Regions from separate parts of the Homo sapiens genome. Here all the other regions are linked to region 3. Evidence: fine-mapped expression QTL. A gene starts in region 3. Each other region holds a variant in brackets. All regions are shown on one strand. Distances are from middle to middle.

Region 1 (4,000 bases), 230 kb after region 3:
AATACATAATACCTGCATTTACAAGCTGCATTTCTGTGCAGTTCAAGTGTTGATCAGTAAAGTTCAGTATGAGTCCTAGGGCACTGGAAACCCCAAATGACTACTGAACCTTCCTACTTGGAATTTTTCCATGTCAAAGGGGTCAGAACCTGCGACAGCAGCCAGACTCACATCCTTTGCACTGCCTGTCCCTCAGCATAAAAAGTGCATTTTCTTTCTTTTTTTTTTTTTTTCCAGAGATGAAGTCTCACTCTGTTGCCCAGGCTGGAGTGCAGTGGCACGATCTCGGCCCACTGCAACCTCCACCTTCTGGGTTCAAGTGATGCTCCTGCCTCAGCCTCCTGAGTAGCTGGGATTACAGGCATGTGCCACCATGCCCGGCTAATCATGCAAAATCATGAAGACCCATAGTGCCACATTTCCTACAAAACAGGTCAATCGATTGTCAAAAGGAAAGCATCAGACAACTAACAGAATAGATGGACTAAGGTGCTCCGCCCCAGGAAGCCCACACCCTAGCAGCTCTGACTCAGACACTGCACTGGGTTATTATACGGCATGTGTGCGCAAATCAGAAGCATTTTTTATGCCTTCCTTAGCATTTATGTAAAAGCTTTCTTTTAAGATTCTTCAGTTAAACTTCACCAAATATCAGAGTGAGCTTGGATAAGAGGGAAGGCATTGTAGAGTCTTAATTTCCTATGTGGAGAAGTGTCTAATGTTAGCTCTAATTATGTGATTTGTCCAGCCAAACAGCGAAGCTGGTCAGAGCTCCCGAAATGATCACATATATCTTAGCCTTCCAAACTACAATGCTATTCTTATGTCCTTCTTTAGAAAAGAATGTAAGGTGACTTGTTAAAATTCATGCAATTATTACATTGTAAGTAAAAGTAGCCTGTAGACAGGATTTGAGCTTCCTAGCAGCTGAAGTTAAAAGAGAAACTCGAAGGGCTTTGAGAGTCATATTGTCCTTAAATATCAACTTAGCAACTTAGAGAAGCACAGTTTTCCTTACACTTTGGTCCAAGACATGTTATTCCTGTTTGCACTATTACACAGTGATGCAGAAGGCAAGATTGTTTATGGCATCCTTGTAATAATTAGCAGTTTTCATCTAGAAGTTTCTGATGCATACCTTTGCACATGCAGTGATCAAAATGAAGTACAGTAGCAGTGGAGGAAGAACATATTTGTATCCTCTATCTAGACCTTTCCTTAATGTTTTATAATATCCAAATGCTACTACATAATATAGTATATTATTAATCAAGTCTAGTTTTGAAAAATCTGCTTGGAAATGAAAACAAATGAGCAATAAAAATGCTAACTACCAATGCTTAGTGAATAAATAATGGGAGAATTGTTTTCTATTATTGTCTAAACAGAAGTATGCTTATTCTCAAATCAGGTATTAAGAGTGCTTTTCTCCTGAATGGTCATTTTAATAGAATTAATATTTAGCGAATAGTCTCTGAGGCAGGGGATAGCATTGTAGTAATGCTCTTTTCAATCCAAATCAGTACATTTTGTATTTCAAAGTTCATTTCAGATTGAACATACTGCGGCTATACATAAGAAGGTTATTTATTTATTTATTTTTAGCTCTTTTTAACTTTATTACCTCTGTAAAGACCCTATCTCCAA[A/G]TAATGTCACATTGTGAGGAACTGGGGTTAGGACTTCAACACATGAACTTTTGGCAGAATATAATTCAGCCCATAACACTGTGTTTATCCACTTGGTTTCATAGGTACTTCACAACTGCATAAAGATAGGGAAAAAACTCAGCACATTCTGAAGTAGAAAGCTGATCATATTGTCAATGTGTTAAAATATTGGGCATAATTTACGTGAAAGTTGAGAAGCAATTTCAAAATGAATCTCCTTTCTTTGCAAGGAATGCCACATTCTTGGTTTTCACTGTGCAGCTGACATGGCCTATACCGAGACCCAAAAGAACTTCTCCACTCTGTGGAGAAACGCTTTTTCTTTTTTCTTTTCTTTTTTTTTTATTATTATTATACTTTAAGTTTTAGGGTGCATGTGCACAACGTGTGGGTTTGTTACATATGTATACATGTGCCATGTTGGTGTGCTGCACCCAGTAACTCGTCATTTAGCATTAGGTATATCTCCTAATGCTATCCCTCTCCTCTCCCCCCAGTAACTCGTCATTTAGCATTAGGTATATCTCCTAATGCTATCCCTCCCCCCTCCCTCCAGTAACTCATCATTTAGCATTAGGTATATCTCCTAATGCTATCCCTCCCCCCTCCCCTCACCCCACAGCAGTCCCCGGTGTGTGATGTTCCCCTTCCTGTGTCCATGTGTTCTCTTTGTTCAATTCCCACCTATGAGTGAGAACATGCGGTGTTTGGTTTTTTTGTCCTTGCGATAGTTTGCTGAGAATGATGGTTTCCAGCTTCATCCGTGTCCCTACAAAGGACATGAACTCATCATTTTTATGGCTGCATACTATTTCATGGTGTATATGTGCCACATTTTCTTAATCCAGTCTATCATTGTTGGACATTTGGGTTGGTTCCAAGTCTTTGCTATTGTGAATAGTGCCACAGTAAACATACGTGTGCATGTGTCTTTATAGCAGCATGATTTATAATCCTTTGGGTATATACCCAGTAATGGGATGGCTGGGTCAAATGGTATTCCTAGTTCTAGATCTAGTTCTAGATCCCTGAGGAATCGCCACACCGACTTCCACAATGGTTGAACTAGTTTACAGTCCCACCAACAGTGTAAAAGTGTTCCTATTTCTCCACATCCTCTCCAGCACCTGTTGTTTCCTGACTTTTTAATGATCGCCACTCTAACTGGTGTGAGATGGTATCTCATTGTGGTTTTGATTTGCATTTCTCTGATGGCCAGTGATGATGAGCATTTTTTCATGTGTTTTTTGGCTGCATAAATGTCTTCTTTTGAGAAGTGTCTGTTTATATCCTTTGTCCACTTTTTGATGGGGTTGTTTGTTTTTTTCTTGTAAATTTGTTTGAGTTCATTTTAGGTTCTGGATATTCCCTTTGTCAGATGAGTATGTTGCAAAAATTTTCTCCCATTCTGTAGGTTGCCTGTTCACTCTGATGGTGGTTTCTTTTGCTGTGCAGAAGCTCTTTAGTTTAATTAGATCCCATTTGTCAATTTTGGCTTTTGTTGCCATTGCTTTTGGTGTTTTAGACATGAGTCCTTGCCCATGCCTATGTCCTGAATGGTATTGCCTAGGTTTTCTTCTAGCGCTTTTATGGTTTTAGGTCTAACATGTAAGTCTTTAATCCATCTTGAATTAATTTTTGTATAAGGTGTAAGGAAGGGATCCAGTTTCAGCTTTCTACATATGGCTAGCCAGTTTTCCCAGCACCATTTATTAAATAGGGAATTCTTTCCCCACCTATTCCAAAAAAAGGTTATTTTTATTCATCTCTTGATCAATGACATGAGTGAAAAGTTGAAAACTATGTTCAGTGGCAAATAGGTGACCAGTTATTGGTTTAGACCAATAGGCAGGAGGTGACATAGCCAAAACAGATTAAAATTTATGAAATAGGAGAAAGTTGGGCAAGCATAAGCCACCTGAATGGAAACAAGCATCAGGCAGACAGTTTTGTTAAAGACCAGATAATTTGTACGCATCCCATGGTCATAGGCCAGTACTCATTCACTCGAATCAAGACTGACAGTAAAGGATCAAGATTCTCTTTGCTTGGAAGGGGAGAATCAGAAGGTAGACTCTAGTGGGACAAAAAGGATACAGTGAACCCAAGAATGAATGTGGTTAGTAAACATAGTATTTGTTTTATATTAAGAGTAGCATTCCAGCAAGGCACAGTGGCTCACACCTGCAATCGAGAGACTGAGGTGGGAGGATCGCTTGAACCTGGGAGGCGGAGGTTGCAGTAAGCTGGGATCGTGCCATTGTACTCCAGCCTGGGTGACAGGGTGAGACCCTATCTAAAAAAAACAAAACAACAACAAGAAGAAAAAAAC
Region 2 (4,177 bases), 87 kb before region 3:
AAGGAAAATCACTCATAAGCCCACCATCTAAAGAAAACGTTGCTGACATTTTTATTAATTTCCAGGCACTTTCTATACACACATTATTTTTACATTGTTGTGATCAGATTATATACGTGAATAACAGTCATGTCATTGTACATTGATACAGGTTCCCAAAATAGTTTATTTCATGATCCTGGCTGTTGCTGCCCTCCTCAAACCCTGTTTATTTATTTGTTTATTCAACAAATACTTATGGAATCCCTCATTAAGGGCCAGGTCCTGAGAGGACTGGAGTGAACCAGACAGAAAGGAATCAGCTCTGATGGAATACACATTCTTGGTGAAGGAAACACAATAAATGAATAAACAAGTGTTAAGTGTGATGGGAAGCTACTGGAAATTTGTAAGCAGGGAGTAGCGTCATCTGCTTTACATGTTTTAAAAGGTTTCCTTCTGTGTGGAGGGTGGATTGCAGGGAGAGGAGAGCAGCAGCAAGGAGGGCAGGTGGGAGGCTGCTGCGTTCCTGGAGACCAGAAAGATGGCGGTGTGTTAGTCCGTTTTCACGCTGCTGATAAAGACATACCTGAGACTGGGCAATTTACAAAAGAAAGAGGTTTAACTGGACTCACAGTTCCACTTGGCTGGGGAGGCCTCACAATTATGGCAGAAGGCAAGTAGGAGCAAGCCACATCCTACATAGATGGGGACAGGCAAAAAGAGATTGAGAACCAGGCAAAACGGGTTTCCCCTTATCCAACCATCAGATCTCGTGAGACTTACTCACTACCACGAGAACAGTTTGGGGAAAACCACCCCCATGATTCAATTATCTCCCATCGGGTCCCTCCCACAACACGTGGAAATTATGGGAGTAAAATTCAAGATGAGATTTGGGTGGGGACTCAGAGCCAAACAGTATCAGGCAGTTTGGCTGGAAGGGATGGAGGGAGGTGGAGAGGAGAGGAATGGACAGCAGTGGGGGCCACAGAGCTTGCTGATGTGTGTTATGGATATGAAACGGATGTAAGGAAACAGGAGGAATCTAGGATGGCTGCCAGGATTCTAGCTTGAATGACTGGCTGAATGAGGGAGATACAGGTTTGAGGAGAAATGGAGAGCCCTGCTGTGGGTGGGCGAGATGCCCATCCAGGAGGACACATCAAGCTTGCAGTTGGATGAGTGCCTCTGGAGTCCAGAGCCAAAGTCATCTAATGGAGACTTGTTGACACATGGCAGCATTTAAAGCTGTGGAACTGGAGGAGACCTTGGGGAGAGAGTGTGAATGGAGAAGAGGAAGGCCCTGACTTTTAAAAGCTGAGCAGAGGAAAAGGAGCAACATGGCCTATACCCCAACCACATGCTCCCTGCCTGCCACCACAGTCCCTGGGATATGTGAAATAAGAGATAGGCTCTTCTCAATAAATTATGCCATTTTTATAAAGGAATATGTAGTATTCTATAACCTCTTAAAACTGTGGAAGTCAAAGCAGCATTCTACAATTTTGATTTAAAAGATGACAAGCTGTGTATTGACAATCCAATATTTAAATCACACAATAAAACATATTTAAATTATTTTATAGGTCCACATTATAAAAACTTTTATTTTCAAGGGCTGCTTTTAAAATGTGGTGGCATTTTTACACAGTTCTGTGTATATTTTAAAATTTCCTTTGGAACTTACTTCTTGACCAATGGATTATTTAGAAGTGTGTTGTTTAATTTACAAGTGTTTAGAGATTTTCCTGACTTCCTTACCTTACTGAGTTCTGGTTTGATTTTATTATGGTCAGAGAACATAATCTGTATGATTTGAATCCCTTTACTTTTTTCTTTCTTTCTTTTTTTTTTTTTTTTTTGAGATGGAGTCTAGCTCTGTCGCCAGGCTGGAGTGCAGTGGCATGATCTTGGCTCACTGCAACCTCCACTTCCCATGTTCAAGCGATCCTCCTGCCTCAGCCTCCTGAGTAGCCGGGACTACAGGTGCCCGCCACCACGCCCAGCTAATTTTTTGTATTTTTAGCAGAGACAGGATTTCACCATGTTGGCCAGGATGGTCTCGATCTCTTGACCTTTTGATCCGCCCACCTCGGCCACCCAAAGTGCTGGGATTACAGGTGTGAGCCACTGCACCTGGCCAAATCTCTTTAAACTTTTTGAGGTTTGTTTTATGGTCCAGGATAGTGTATGTTTTCAGAACGCCCTTGAAAAAAATTGATATTCTGTTGTTATGGGGTGGAATGTTCTATATGTATCAATTAGATCCTATTGGC[T/C]AATTGCATTGTTTAGATCTTCTGTCTTCTAGCTAATTTTCTTTCTAGAAATTCTATCAGTTGCTGAGAGGAAGCTGATGAAATATCCAACTACAACTGTGGAATTGTTTATTTTTCCTTTCAGTTTTATTAGTTTTGCTTCATGGATTTTGAGGCTCCGTTACTCGGTGTGCACACATTTAGGATTGTTATTTTTCCTAGTGGATTGATTCTTTTATTATTATGTAATATCCCTGTTTGTCCCAAGTAATTTTCTTTGAGATCCACTTAATCATATATCAATACAGCTACCTCTGTTTTTGTATTATTGCTTGCATCTATCTTTTTCTATACTTTTGCTTTCGATGTACCTGTCATTGAATTTGAAATAATTTATTAAAAGCAACATATAGTTGACACACAGTTTTTAATCTACTAAACTAATCTCTGCCTTTTAATTAGTATGTTTAGACTACTTACATGTAAGGTAATTATTGATATGTTAGAGCTTAAGCCTGCGATTTTATTTTCTGTTTCTTGTAACTTTCCTATGATTCTCATTTCTGTTTCTTTTTTTTACCTTCCTATAGATTACTTGCACAAGTTTTAGAATTCCATCTTGATGTGTTTATAATGTGTTTGAGTGTATCTCTTTGAATAGCCTGTTCAGTGGTTGCTCTGGGTATTACAGTGAACATATGTGACTTATTGCTGTCTACTACTATCAACATTTTACCACTGCAAGTGGCATGTGAAAACCTTACTGCCATTCAGGCCCCTTTACCTTCCCCTCATTGACTCAAGTGAGAACTGGTCTTGTAATTTTGATTCCCTCAATCAAATATGATTGATGACACTCATAAGGAATAGGATAGCCTATCGTATGTACCCATATATTTTCTCTTTCCATTGTATTTGCTTCCTGATGCTCAAGATTCTTTCTTTCATCATTACCCTTCTGTTTGAAAACTTGCTCTAGCCATTCTCTGAAATTAGGTCTGTTAACCGCACAATCTTTTGGTGTCCTGTCATCTGACAATAGATTTATTTACTATTTATTCCTGAAGGATAGTTTTGCCAAATGTAGAATTTGTGGCTGGCAGGTATTTTTTTTTTTCCTTTCAGAGCTTGAAAAATGTGTCACTTTCTTCTGGTCTCCAGGGTTTCAGAGGAAGAGAAATTCACTGTCACGCAAACTGGTGTTTCCCCATAGGTAATGTGTCATTATCCTCTGGCTGCTTTCAAGAATTCTTTTTGGTCTTTATGTTTTCAGAACTTTAATTTGATGTGTCTTGGCATGGATTATTTTGGATGTATCCTGTTTGGGATTCACTCAACTTCTTGAATTTGTAGGTTTATGTCTTTTTGCCAAATTTGAGAAGTTTTCAGCCGTTCTTTCTTTGAATTCTCTTTCAGCCACAGAATCCTCTGGGACCCTGATGTTACAAATGTTGGATTTTTTTTGTTGTTATTTTCACACAGGTCCCTGAAGCTCTGTTCTTTTGTTTTTCAGTTTATTTTCTCTCTGTTGCTCAGATTGGGTGAAGCCTACGAGTCCTTCCTCAAGTTTATCAGTTCTAGCCTCACTCAGCTCCACTGTACTATTGAGCCCATGTAATACCTTTAATATTTTTCAGTTATTGGATTTTTCACTTCTATAATTTCTGATTGTTTCTTTTTTATAGCTTCTACTTATTTTCTGAGATTTTAATTTTTCCATTTGTGTCAACAGAATTTGTAATTCATTGTTAAAGCAGTTTTACAGTGACTACTTTTAAATACTTGTTAAATACTTTCAACATCTGATTCGTGTCAGTATTGGCATCCACTGATGGTCTTTTTTCTTTCAAGTTGTGATTTTCCTGATTCTTGGTACAATGGGTAACTTTTTACATTATATCCTGAACAGCCTGGCTATTAGGTTTGGAGATTATCTTTTT
Region 3 (4,177 bases):
GTGGTGGTGGGATTGTTGGGTGGTGAGGAAGGAAGTGGTATCAAGGATGGCAAGAGATGGTATTGGGGAGTGGGCAGAGGCCACTGAATCCAACATCTCGCCTGCCCAGCGATGGAGCCTTGGGATTTTCCTGTGGGTGACAGGGAGCCATTGAAGCGTTTAAGGACTGGTCGTGGGGTGAGGGGAGTGTACTGTCATCATTTTTGTAGTCTTTTGCAGAGAAAATTTGGAGGCAGTTTGGAAAACACTCTAGAGCCTGACATGTGAGAGATGAGTTAGGAGGTCACGTGTCCCCACTTTTCTAATTTTGTATCTTCTTCAGCAAAAAAGTCTTTGCCGCCTATTCTGAGCAGATGTATGATTATTCACAAATGATATACAATACAACTGTATTCACACATTGCATGCCTTGAAACATACACAAAATGTAAACACTAAAAACATGACGTAAAAATAGATGTAAGTCTGGGAACTCGATGGAGGTGGTGGCTGCACAGCATTGTGAGTGTACTCAATGCCACAGGATTCCCCATCTTAAAACGGCTCATTTTATGGTATGTGAGTCTTAATTAAATACAAAAACCAGACAAGTGTGGGTAGATAGACATTCAATTCCTTTCTTCTCATCCTTCAGTGAACGGTCTGGTGTGCCCTGGGTGCACGTACCCCTTGGGGATTAGGGCAGTGATGAGAGGCAATGGAGGGAGGGTGTGGCTGTGGAGATGCGGACGGGAAGAAGGATCTGAGGAGTGACTGAAGAGGTAGAATGGGCAGGGCTTGGTGATGGAAGGTTGAAGAGTATTCAGCAAAGAGAAGAACGTGGGAAGCCTCCCCATTTCTGGTTTGGGTATAAGATAAAGAAACGTTTTCTCCTTGCCAGGGACATGAGGCAGACAATACTGGGATAATTTCCCAGGGCTTGGGATAGGACTGGGTGGGGAAGTTTCTAGGTATCCATTCTCAGGATAAGGACGGGCCTGTTTGGATGAGGATAATGGAGGGTCAAACCTGAAGAAGCCAGATTAGCAGAGGCAAAGTGAGAGATCAGAAGGTGGTAAACTCAGAAGGGGGTAGAGACCTGAGGAGCAAGCTGGGACAAGGCAGGAGGGAATTCACAGGCCACATGGTAAGTAATGAGTGGGGTAGAGGACAGAGCAGGGTTTCATTGTGGCGAGTCTGACGGGAGGTGCTGGGGGATGTTCCAGGAGAACAGCAGAAATGTGTGATGCTATGGATGTGGGCTTGGCAAGTTCCATCTGGAGCTGGGAAGAGGCCACCCATGGAGAACAGGAACCATGAGGCGGAGAGTGGAGCTTGCAGGAGGGCGAAAATTAAGACCAAAGAATGGAAGCCTGCCAGTGTGAGAGACCGCCTGACAAAAACCAGGAGAGTATGGAGTCATGGCGGCCCAGGCAGAAGTTCTGGGAGGAAAGAAATGGTCAACACTACAGGGAAGTCAAACACTGCCAGTGGAGACAAATAGGACAGGAACTGAAAAAGCATCCATTAGTGAATCCCTGGTGTCATTAGTGAAAATAATTCCAGGCATGAATGGGGAGAGGGAAGGGTGTCGGGCAGGAAGTCCAGTGCCCGTGGGTTGACTGAATGGGAGATGAGGAGGTAACACCCATCATGTAGGTCATGTAGAGCAGCCTTAGGACATCTGATTCCTTGCCTAAGACTCTTCTTTCCTGGTGTAGCTTTGTTCTAGAAAGGTCTGGAAGACTTGTCACAGTTCCAATGCAGGATGAGCCTTTGGTCCTGATCTCTTGGAGGCCCAGACAGCCTGGGAAACCAGCAGAGCTTTGGACAAGTTAAGCAGCCCATTGAAATCAACATTCTTGATAATCATATATCTAAGAGATTCCAAAATGTTCCTGGGATTCTTTTATGGGTCTGCATAGGGTTAGAAAGCACAGGAGTCAAAGAGACCTTCTCCCTTGGCCTCCAGGGCCACCATCCTCTGCTTTTGTCAGTTGGTCTCCCCAGAGTAGAGTCCAGGTTCCTGCTTCCAGCCTTCTGGTAGACCAGGCCCTGCCACAAGTGAGAGTTGGCCGGTTGGGTATCTGGTTTAGTCACTCGCCTCCACACTTTCACATCCTCTATCAACACCTGCACACTTGGGTTGTGACCACACATGCTCTTCCTGTTTGTACAGAAAGTGCCATTCAGAAAGCTCGCCAGCGAGAAGAGAGCTCCACGCTCAGCCTCAGAAGAAAGACGTTCAACGACTTACTGGGGAGAGAAAGAAAAGGAACGGGAGCTGAGAGGTAAGATCAAACTGGAGGGTGTGCGGGCCCTCTAGGATGCCTTGCCTGGAAGAGAGGTAGCCCCGACTTTGTGTCCTGAAGGGTGGCGCTCTAAGTAGCTGTGCCCATGCTCCGCTGGTCAGGGCAGGGGGAGCATTCTTGGTCAGCCTCACCGAGATGGTCCAGGCCCTGGTGAACAGCCAGAGGGATTGAGAAGGAAGAGATGGGATGTGACCAAAGTTGGTCACTGAAGCCGTCAGTGTGTGTGCGTGTGCATGTGTGTGTGTGTGTGTGGTAGAGGGTGCACATAAAGAAGACATAACCTGAGTGTGAACATGCTCACACACATATTTATGATGCTGGCTGGGGCCTTATGAAAAGTGTGTCTTAACCTCATGTTGCTCATTAGCTATAACCTCAAAAATAGAAACCATGACATGGCCACAGACTGGATCCCAGTCAATGGCCCCAGTGAGTGAGCTTGCAAGGAGAGATCATGGGCAGTTCCACCTAAGGCCACCGTCACTTCTGCAGAAATGACTTGGAATAATGACCTCCTCACTGTTAGGGGCTAACAGCACTATATTTGTATTTCTTGGATGGAACATTGTATATGTGTGTATTTGTGTGTGTGTGTCTGTGTATGTGCATAAACACATCATGTATTTATACACATGACATTGTGTGTATGTGTGTTTATGTGTGTATATATATGTACACACACATATGATATAATGCAATATACACAGTGACCAGATTTTTGAAACCAAAGAGAACTAATAGCAAGACAAAGGGGTTTTTTTCCTAATATGTGATTTCCTTGCTATTCGAGTCTCACATATATAAAAATGAAATATGTCTACACATGTGTTTCATAATTCCTTTTATTCAAAGAGGGGATCATTCAGGTAGCTAAAGGTCAAGTGTTTACAATAACAAAGTGGTGGTAAACTCATTCTTTGAATGTTGATCGTACAAACTAAATAATCCATCAAAAAATGTTGTCTCTGCCATTATTAAAAGCATGTGTTCCTTGGTGCAAAATTTAAGAATGTTCTAACTACAAGAGCACCTTCCTTTACCTAGGGCTATCCCATCTCACTGTTGAAGTGAAGTGATTACAGTGAAAGTAATACAGACATTTAATATTCTTAGTTTTGGTTGTGTTTCTGTCAACTGCTATTCCCTTGTTCTAGGCGTAACTGCACTTAGTGTTTAGTGGTGTTATGCATATGTATATTTGATTTGCATTTAGAAAATAGAAAAATATATACATTGCTTATTTTCCAGATTTCAAGGTTTAAATTCCCACTCTAACATGATGGTTTTAGGCAAGTCACTATACATCTCTGCATCGGAGTTCCCACATCTGTAACACAAGTACAATAGTAGATAGTAATCCCTTCCTCTTAAGAATTAAATAAGCTAATACATGTAAAGTGCTTAGACAAGTGCCTGGAACATTGAAAGGGCTCAGTAAGTATTAGCAGCTGTTATCATTGTCATCATCATCATCATCATCATCACTACCTTTTGTACAATTAAGCCATCAAACTTGAAGGGACATGGTAAGAGTTTGGGAAAGGTGAAAGGTGGGAGGTGGTGTGTGTAAAATGGGTTTGGGGGGTGACACTTAAGGCCAGAGCAGTGACATTACAGTCCTTACACTGTAGCTACAGACAAGTAGTGAGCAGGAAAGAGGAACAGCACAGAACACCCCTCCCTATGAGGCCTGCTTGTGAGAGGAACATGTTCTGGAGCTCTGTGGGCTTGATGACATGTACTCATACACATCTTGTACAGCAAACCAGGAAATAGGCACATGGAACGGTGACATCCAAATGATAGTATATAACATGCATTCAGTGCCTCTCAGGTGTGAGACGTGGTGCTCGGCATTTTACACACATTTTGTTATTGTATCTGAG

Direction of the effects. Positions count from the first base shown, and alleles are read on the strand shown. Sizes are in standard deviations (SD) of each study's normalised expression. Not every link is listed here.
For the expression in prostate of the gene that starts at base 2,164 in region 3, G is the high allele of the variant in region 1 and A is the other (small effect, 0.25 SD a copy in GTEx).

What was found. PIP is the estimated chance that this variant, and not a neighbour inherited with it, causes the effect.
Region 1: its variant is the best candidate, but not a certain one, in a credible set for the expression of AFF3 in prostate (GTEx, PIP 0.58).
Region 2: its variant is the best candidate, but not a certain one, in a credible set for the expression of AFF3 in T cells (TOPMed, PIP 0.83).

Annotation. Positions count from the first base shown.
Region 1 is chr2:99,907,624-99,911,623 of GRCh38, reverse strand. The region is part of intron 7 of AFF3 (ALF transcription elongation factor 3); the gene reads left to right. Among named protein-coding and RNA genes, the nearest start is that of AFF3, 230 kb to the left of the region's middle. The variant A/G (reference allele first, on the strand shown) is at 1,648.
Region 2 is chr2:100,227,868-100,232,044 of GRCh38, reverse strand. All of the region lies in intron 1 of LINC01104 (long intergenic non-protein coding RNA 1104), which reads right to left. Among named protein-coding and RNA genes, the nearest start is that of LINC01104, 22 kb to the right of the region's middle. The variant T/C (reference allele first, on the strand shown) is at 2,259.
Region 3 is chr2:100,140,577-100,144,753 of GRCh38, reverse strand. AFF3 (ALF transcription elongation factor 3) reads left to right here and starts at 2,164. Exons shown (of 25, transcript NM_001386135.1): 1 at 2,164-2,270.